3 separate regions of the Homo sapiens genome follow, and all the other regions are linked to region 1. Evidence: fine-mapped expression QTL. A gene starts in region 1. Each other region holds a variant in brackets. All regions are shown on one strand. Distances are between the middles of the regions.

Region 1 (2,748 bases):
ACTTAAACAACCCGGCAGAGGAGAGAACCCGACACTCAGGAGCGCTGGCATCCCAGCCTTGCCTACTGGAGAGGTGACTTGGTCCCCGAACCTCAGTTCTTCCACCTGTGAAATGCAGATCATAAAGGTGGATCTGGCCTCACAGCTCTGGGCCCGTAGGACAAGCTGGACAGAGGGCAGACGGTATTATCGCTTTCACTACTATTACTGGTGGCTTTCCTTCCCAGCCTTTCTGGTGGGTGGTCAGACACAGGGCAGAACTTTCTCATGAAGGCAGCTGAAGGAACTCACAAGTTTCTTCCAGCAGGGAGGACAGAGGGAAGGAGAAGTGTCTTCCCGGCACTGCTGTGGGCCCAGGACATCTGCTGCATGGAGGCAGGGGCATGGATGAAAAGACACAGATGACCTGATGGAATGGTGCCCCAGCTTCCTCCTCCTCCCCTTTTTGGAGGTGCCTCTGTTTGCCGAGGATGGGCTCTGGGGAAGCTGGTGTGCAGAGGCTAGGTGCCCAGCCTTGCTTTAGGAAAGCCTCACAAAGTCTGGGGCCCGCCGGGAGTTTCCCAGGGGGGCTCTGCTGCTCCACCCACTCTCGCTCCCCTCTGTGCCCTGACTCAGCAGGAACAGAGGCTTGAGCTCCAGGCCTGGCCTGCCAGGGGCTGCCAAGTTGGTGCTGGACATCTGCAGAATCCCTGAGCCTCTCTGCCCTGGCCCTGGCTGCTCTAGCCATCTGGTCAGCAGGCCACGGGCACATCTGTCTCCTCCCTGGAGCCCTTGGTTCATTCTCGCTGGGTCTCCCTGCGTCCCTCCACCTGCTTAGGCCCCTGCATCTCGGGAGCTTTCTGAGGCTCGTGACCTGGGGCACGGTCGTCCCGGAAGTTCAGCCTTTCCCTCCGTACAACGGAGCCATCAGACGGGACACCTCATACATCCCAGACCCCATTCTCAGGAGCCCCAGGGACAGGGCCCGCTCTGGAGGCAGAAGCCGGACAGGCGGGGCTGGGGCTTTGCCACCGCCAGCCTCCCCGGTAACCTCAGGCCAGCGGCTGCTCCGTCTGGACACCCGACATGTGGCCCCCAGTTCTGGACCCGGGAAGAAGGCCTCCCTGCTCGCCGCTCCTGGGCCGCCGCCGCCGGCAGCAGCCAACAGGCAGCTGGGCCGGCCTGGCCGGGCTCCAGAGGCGCAGAGCGGGTTAAAGTGTGCGCCAGGCCGGCCGGCGCGGGCGGGGGAGCGGCCTGGTGGGAAGTGTGAGTGTTCCTCCCCGTCTGCCTGACAGCTATAAAGGCGGCCGCCGGCGCAGAGCCGCCACTGGGCTGCGCCCCTCCCGGGAACCCCCTCTCTTGGATGCTCTTTGAAGTGGGAGAGGGAGGCGGCGCGGGGGAGGAGGGGAAGGGGAGAGGGAGGCCGGGCCGCAGCCTCTGCACTCACGCCGCCCCCGCACGCACAGCGCACCTGGCGCCGTCTGCCCTCCGCAGCGCTCGCCCCTTTCTCTGGGAGGACAACCTGCTGACCCGAAGCCAGGTAGGCCACCTCGTCCCCGTCCCCCTCACGTTGCAGCGTCCACCAGGCCAGCCCACTGCTCAGAGTGGGGCTGGGGGTAGGAGCACCCCGCGCCCTCTGGAGCCGTTACATAACGTGGGGAGGCTTGTGGGGAGGGGTCGGGCCGCAGAGCACGGGGCAGGGTGGCCTCCCAGCACCTAGCCTTGTGCGCCCGGAGCTCTGTGTGCACGGCAGACCTCTCTGCTGCCGCCAGCCGCTGCTTTTGGACCCCAGGGAGGGATGGATCCCCGTGAGCGAGGCCTGGCCAGAAGCCAGTGGTGTCTGGAAGCCTTAATGAAAAAAGCAAGTGTGAGGCCGGCTGGCACCTGTCTTCAGCCGGCAGGCAGAGGCTGGGGCACCCGTTAGCCAATGGCACAGTGGAGGGGGCTCCTGTGGGTGTGAGGCTGAGAGTGCAGATGGAGGTCTGCAGGGGAGGGAGGTGGGGGGCAGGCGGCGGGGGCAGGGGAGGTCAGACTCAGGCTCCCCACTCCAGGGTGCACTGCTGCGTCGTCCGGGCTGCAGTGGTGTCCTTGGAGTGGCCCCTGAAAATCTGCAGGTGCCGGGCCTGCAAGGAAACTCTTCAAGTTGGATGGAGGCTGCTGAGGAGGGAGGGGCAGAGCCCGAGTTGGCCTCTGGCCTGGCAGGGGTGAGGGGTGACCTCCATGCCTTCTTCCCCTGGAATTGGCCAGGCGTGGGGGTCGAGTCCCTGAGTTTGCTAGTGTGCTACCTTGCTGTGTGGCTTTGAGCAGGTTGGCTCCCCTCTCTGGGCTCCAGGTTATGAGTGCAGGCTGCGTGGTTTCTGAAATCCCTTCTCTAACTCGCTGGCAAGTGACCCTCAGCACCTGAGCAAGGCCTGGACAGAGGTCATGGTGGATCTCTGGTCTTCCCTTCCACAGGGCAGGGTCGACGCTGAGGAGGGGGTGGGGAGAGCTGAGGGCCTGGAGGCTGGACAGTCCCTTCCAATGGGCTTGCTTTGACCCCTGGCAGGTGTTTTGAGCCAAGGGTGCTGGCTGTTGGGAGGAAGTCAGCCTTGTGGCCCTGGACTGCTGACATGCTGGCACAAACTGCACCTCCTCCTGCCCTGCCCCTCCCCCAATTCCATCTTCTCTCCGGGGATCGGGAGGCGGCATAGGTACCTGGGTTCTGCCTCACCTGAGTGCCGGCTGTTGCTGGATGCTGACTGTGGAGCTGCTGGTCTAGGGCGAGGCTGC
Region 2 (2,748 bases), 48 kb before region 1:
GGCTTCTCAGGAGCCACTGGTCCGCTAAGCCTCACTTTTCTCATCTGTAGGATGGATGCCACCTGTGCCCACCTCACCGCTGCCGTGCAGGGGGAGGGCAGCTGGCCGCGTTGATGCAGTTTGACAAAGGTCCCTCCAGACCAGTCTGACAGCTTCCCAGTTCCCCGGAAACGGGCCAAGCTGCATTCCAGGCCTGGCACCAGGGCCGAGGTCTCCGAGGGGACAGTAGGGCTGCCGTGTCTTGGGAAGGTGGGAGGCGGGGAGCAGATGCCGGGAATACTCATCCCACTCTGGGGGTCTTCTTCACCCCTGTTTTATGGAGGAGAAGACTGAAGCTCAGAGCTGCTGCCCAGGGTCACTTCTAGGTCACCTCATGCCCCCTGCTTTGGCCTATGCAACCCACATCAGGCCTTCCTGAGGGAGCAGACCAGAGGGACAGCAGAGGGTGGGCAGGTGGGGCCTTCCCCGAGGAGGTCCTGCCCCTTGCCTCCTCCTTCCCACAGATGGGCTGCCCAGGGCCCCCAGGGGAGAAGGTCTCTGGCACCCAGCTGTCCGGTGTCCCCAACGTCCCCAGAGATGTCCCTGGTGATGACCCTGAAGACTCGGACCTGGTGCCTTCCGTGACCCTGGCGCCTTCCGTGACCCTGGCTGCAGCCCTTGTCCTGCTGTTCCTCCTGCTCTCGGCCTGGCTGGTGTGGGACGGACCTTGCCAAAGCTGCTGCTAATGTGGGCTCCAGGAAAGTGTTGGGGGCCTGGGCCTGGCACGGAGTTAGGGGAGGCACAGCGGGGCCTCCCAGCGACACCCTGGGCTGCACTCCATTCCACCCTTTCCCAAAGCAGCCCCAACGGGACCCCAAGACTCCCCAGCGGGGCCCCTGGGTGGCACCGGACTCTGCCATTGCAGGCAGGGGGCGTGCTCCTGGGGACGGCCCCGGATGTTGGGCTGAGAGCCTCGCGCAGCCCCGGCGCTCAGGCAGATCGGGCTCAAATCCACTTCCTCTCCAGGCTGGCTGCAGGACCTTGGCCCCGTCTGAATCTTTGCAAGGCCCTTTTGGGTATCGCAGTTAAAGCCAAGTGACCCCTAGGTACTGGTGAAATGAGCGGGTGAGTTGGAAGATGGGGGTTCTAGTCCAGGCTCTGCCCGTGCTGGGCTGTGACATGGGCAGGTGCCTTTTCCCACCTGGATCCTGGTTTCCCTGGTCATCCAATGGGGCTCACAATACCCCACTTCTGGGCCCTGTTGGGAAGGCAGGTGCCGTGGGAGGCTGGGGCTGGGCCAGGCGGGTGCCCTGGTCTTTGCTGCCACCTGGTGGCTACAGATAGA[A/C]TCGCATCGTCTGCTGCATGGTGCCCTCTGGGTAGTCCAGGCCAGGGCTGAGGAGCTGAAGGCTTTTTATGTTTTGGTGCAGAACATTTTGAGATTGTGGATGTGGATAAGCACAAATCCTGTTACCCAGAGAGAACAGATTTTTAACATTTTCTATTTATCTTCTTTCCCCATCTCCATATCTATAATCTCCTTAACAAAATCATAGGGCGGAGGTAAGTTGTGAGCCGGGCTCTAGAGTCAGAGAATGCTGCCTGTGGCCCTGGCCCAGGGCCCTGATGCTCTTTTGTGCCGCAACAGCTCCCTCCCTGACCTCGACATAGGAAGCAGGGAAGCATTTTTAGGGCTGGGAGGAGTGTGGGAGACCTTCGGGCTGGAAGGTCTCCTGGAGGCTCCAAGACCCCCCACCGCCGTCTCTCACGGAACAAGTACTTGTCAAGATTTCTACTGTGGGCCGGGTGCGGTGGCTCAAGCCTGTAATCCCAGCACTTTGGGAGGCCGAGGCAGGTGGATCATCTGAGGTCAGGAGTTCGAGACCAGCCTGACCAACATGGAGAAACCCCGTCTCTACTAAAAATACAAAATTAGTTGGGCATGGTGGCGGCCACCTGAAGTCCCAGCTACTCAGGAGGCTGAAGCAGGAGAATTGCTTGAACCCAGGAGGCAGAAGTTGCGGTGAGCCGAGATTGAGCCATTGCACTCCAGCCTGAGCAAAAGAGTGAAACTCCGTCTCAAAAAAAAAAAGAAAAAAAAAATTTCTACTGTGAGCCAGCCCCTGCGGGGAAACAGGGTAAACAGGATCCCTGACGGAGCTGGGGTATGACCAGGAATGGGAAGGCTGGACTCACTGCAGCATGCTGGGGCTGGGCTGGGTAAGTAGGGCCTGCAGGAAGGGGCAGATGAGCTCTAGGGTGTAGGAGGAGTAGGCCAGGGCCGGGGTCCCCAGGGAGGCTGTTCCAGGCAGAGGAACAGACTATGGGGAGTTCAGAAGTCACTCTGTGTTCTTCTGCACCAGCTACTGCTCCCCTCAGGGAACTGGAGGCCTCTGGAGCCTCCGAGAAGCAGCCACCGAGAAGGGGCAAGTGAGCGGCAAGGCCGTGGTTCCACATTCCCAAACCACGCTTTGTCCTTCCTGGGGTCCCCGTAGGTGGGGCTCTTCTCCCTCCTCCAGCTTTCTGAAGCCAAAGTACACACCTCGGTGTCCATGATGGGGCAGCCGGGGGGCTGTACGCTTCCTCTGTCTCTGTCTCTGGGCAGACCATAGTCCAGCGTGCTGCCCCTACTGCCCTGGAAAAGCCGAGCCGGGAAGCGAGCGGTGGCTTTAGAGGCGTCGTGCAGAGGGGGAGACGGAGGTAGAGCCTGGAGGTTTGGGGCACCTCCTGAAGCAGTGGGGTGGCCTTTCAGGTGGGGGGACTGAGAGAGCA
Region 3 (2,748 bases), 27 kb after region 1:
GGCGGCGGGACTCCATGGTGGCGTCCCAGAGCAGATGCCCGGGCTGTGGAGCTGCTGCCGCCTCTGCTTCCCTCCTCCCCTGCCGAGTCCAGAATGAGCCTGCACATTGGATGTGGAGGTTGGGCCCAGGCACACCTACTGGTTCAAAGAAGCAAACAGTCCTAACAATAGTTGGCTTTGGCTGCATAGGCTCCAGCCAAGAATCATAGCTGGTGGCTGGCTGGGACCCAGCGTGCCTCCCCCGACCCCAGCAGGTCCGTGCAGCCATGGCCTGCCTGAATTGCACTGTAGGCTCGGCCCCTGCCAGCAGCCGAGCTTTTTAATTTTGATAATTGGAGGCTGGATGCCTAGTGTCCCCCATTCCATCAGAGTCCCAGCTGGAGGAGGGGGTGGGAGAGAATTCTGGAACATTCTTAGCACATAAGACACCTTCTGAGGTCCCCTCCCCGGTGGGAAGAAGGAACCCACTAGCTGATGTGAGAAGGTAATATTGAGAAGCCTGCGTGTGTGCAGGGAGCAACTACAGTGCTGGGGGCCCCAAATTCTCAGGCCACCCCTCCCCTCCGGAAGGAGCTCGGGCAGCTCCCATGCAGTTGAGATGGAAAACAATGCCAATCAATCCTAAAATGTGCCCCTCTGCGGGCGCCTCATCCGTTCCACTTCAGACAGTGGGAACTCTGACCGTAGCAGGTGGAGGGTCGGCCCGGGGCTCAGGACAGGTGTGTGCTTCAGGCGAACATACCCTCCGAAGAAAACTCCCTCGCCTGAAAAGCCGGAGCCTGCCGGTGGGGCCTGGAGCGTCTCATCACCTTCCCTGCTTGGTCTCGCTTTCAGGACCAGGCCCAAGGCGCGCAAGCAAGGCGTGAGTCCCGCGGACATGTACCGGTGGAAGCTCTCGTCCCACGAGCCCTGCAGTGCCACCTGCACCACAGGTACTGGTCACGGGTGCCAAGGGGCAGCAACTGCCCTGAACCCATTTCCATGGACATGGGCTGGGGCTGTGGGGCCCACCCACTAGCTTGCAGCCCCCAAACTGCCCTCGGGGTGCTTGTCCGTGGCCTCCTGACTTGGGGGCAGTGTGGCGTGATAGGAGTTTGGGTGTCTGGTGAGGCCACCCTCATTCTCACAGTGTGCTAGACCATGGTCAGGTCCAGGCCCCTGGGGGTCATCCGGGCTACCACCCATTGGTGGTAGCCCTTGTCTGTTGCCAGTGATACCATGTTTTGTTAGGGCAAACATCCTTTGGGTTAAAAGTAAGAAATCTTAGGTAGCAGAGATTTTACTTTTGCTTCCAGCAAACATAGGAAGGGAGTCATAGGCCCCTGTGATCTGTGACGAAGGGAAGTAGGCAAATTCTAGGACCTCATCAGCAGGGGAGAAGTTAGGAGGGGAAAAAAGACCCTCCTCGGTGGTGCCTGGACAGACAGA[T/G]GTGTGTGGTTAGTAAGAGTTGAGCTGGGATTTGAACCCACAGCTGTCTGGTTGCACGGCCACCATCGCCCTGAGACGCTGGCCACAGCCGCTAGAGCTGGAGCTGCCTCTGCTGCCCACTCTAGTACCCTCCCCTGGGGGATGCCGCGAGGTCTGATGTCAAACCCAGGATCAGGATACAGGGCCGTTGATGGGAGAAAATATGGCAGGGAGACCCCAGTGCCGGCTGTGAGGTCACATTTTATCTATTCTTGGGGCTTCATGTTTGGATGTAGAGGATACCCAGCTGGCCCTCAAAAGGTTTGATGCTCCTGGTCCCGCCCCAGTGCCACCCATTTGCCAGGGCATTTGATGCCCTTGCAGTCTCTGGCCAGTGAGGATTCCACACAGCTGGGCAGTCTGAGCTTGGCCGCACCCTCTGCAGCCCTGCTGGCATCTCAGGAGATGGGCCCGAGAGAGGGAGGGGCTGGGGCGGCCCTGCAGGCTCTGCTCACACTGGCCTTGCCTCTCTGGGACTGAAGAAAGGGCTCTGCCTCCTGTTACAAGAGCCCCCAAACAGGGCATAGCCATGGGGCATGCTGTGTTCGCCCCTGCGCCTGGCATCCTGGAGGGAAAAAGCAAGTGCTGTGGGCGGCGTGGCGGGCACCCGGCTCGGCCAGGCTCGCACCGCCGTGGGCGGCGTGGCGGGCACCCGGCTCGGCCAGGCTCGCACCGCCGTGGGCGGCGTGGCGGGCACCCGGCTGGGCCCGGCTCGCACCGCCGTGGGCGGCGTGGCGGGCACCCTGCTGGGCCCGGCTCGCACCGCCGTGGGCGGCGTGGCGGGCACCCGGCTGGGCCCGGTTCGCACCGCCGTGGGCGGCGTGGCGGGCACCGGCTTGGCCAGGCTCGCACCGCCGTGGGCGGCGTGGTGGGCACCCGACTTGGCCAGGCTCGCACCGCCGTGGGCGGCGTGGTGGGCACCGGCTTGGCCAGGCTCGCACCGCTGTGGGCGGCGTGGTGGGCACCGGCTTGGCCAGGCTCGCACCGCTGTGGGCGGCGTGGTGGGCACCCGGCTTGGCCAGGCTCGCACCGCTGTGGGAGGCGTGGTGGGCACCCGGCTTGGCCAGGCTTGCACCGCTGTGGGCGGCGTGGTGGGCACCGGCTTGGCCAGGCTCGCACCGCTGTGGGCGGCGTGGTGGGCACCTGGCTTGGCCAGGCTCGCACCGCTGTGGGCGGCGTGGTGGGCACCGGCTTGGCCAGGCTTGCACCGCCTGGTTGACCACACCATGGGCCCTGGGCAAATTGCCAAAGCCTTCCGAGCCACTGTTTTCCACAGGTGAA

The links. PIP is the estimated chance that this variant, and not a neighbour inherited with it, causes the effect.
Region 2: its variant is fine-mapped to the expression of ADAMTSL2 in whole blood (TOPMed, PIP 0.95).
Region 3: its variant is fine-mapped to the expression of ADAMTSL2 in tibial nerve (GTEx, PIP 0.90).

What each region holds. Positions count from the first base shown.
Region 1 is chr9:133,533,399-133,536,146 of GRCh38, forward strand. It overlaps ADAMTSL2 (ADAMTS like 2), which reads left to right and starts at 1,306. Exons shown (of 19, transcript NM_014694.4): 1 at 1,306-1,519. RefSeq lists enhancers at 171-712, 713-1,252, 1,253-1,794, 2,335-2,748.
Region 2 is chr9:133,485,188-133,487,935 of GRCh38, forward strand. No RefSeq gene overlaps it. Among named protein-coding and RNA genes, the nearest start is that of SLC2A6, 7.5 kb to the left of the region's middle. RefSeq lists enhancers at 212-727, 728-1,242. The variant A/C (reference allele first, on the strand shown) is at 1,325.
Region 3 is chr9:133,560,364-133,563,111 of GRCh38, forward strand. It overlaps ADAMTSL2 (ADAMTS like 2), which reads left to right. Exons shown (of 19, transcript NM_014694.4): 12 at 835-932. Among named protein-coding and RNA genes, the nearest start is that of ADAMTSL2, 27 kb to the left of the region's middle. The variant T/G (reference allele first, on the strand shown) is at 1,429.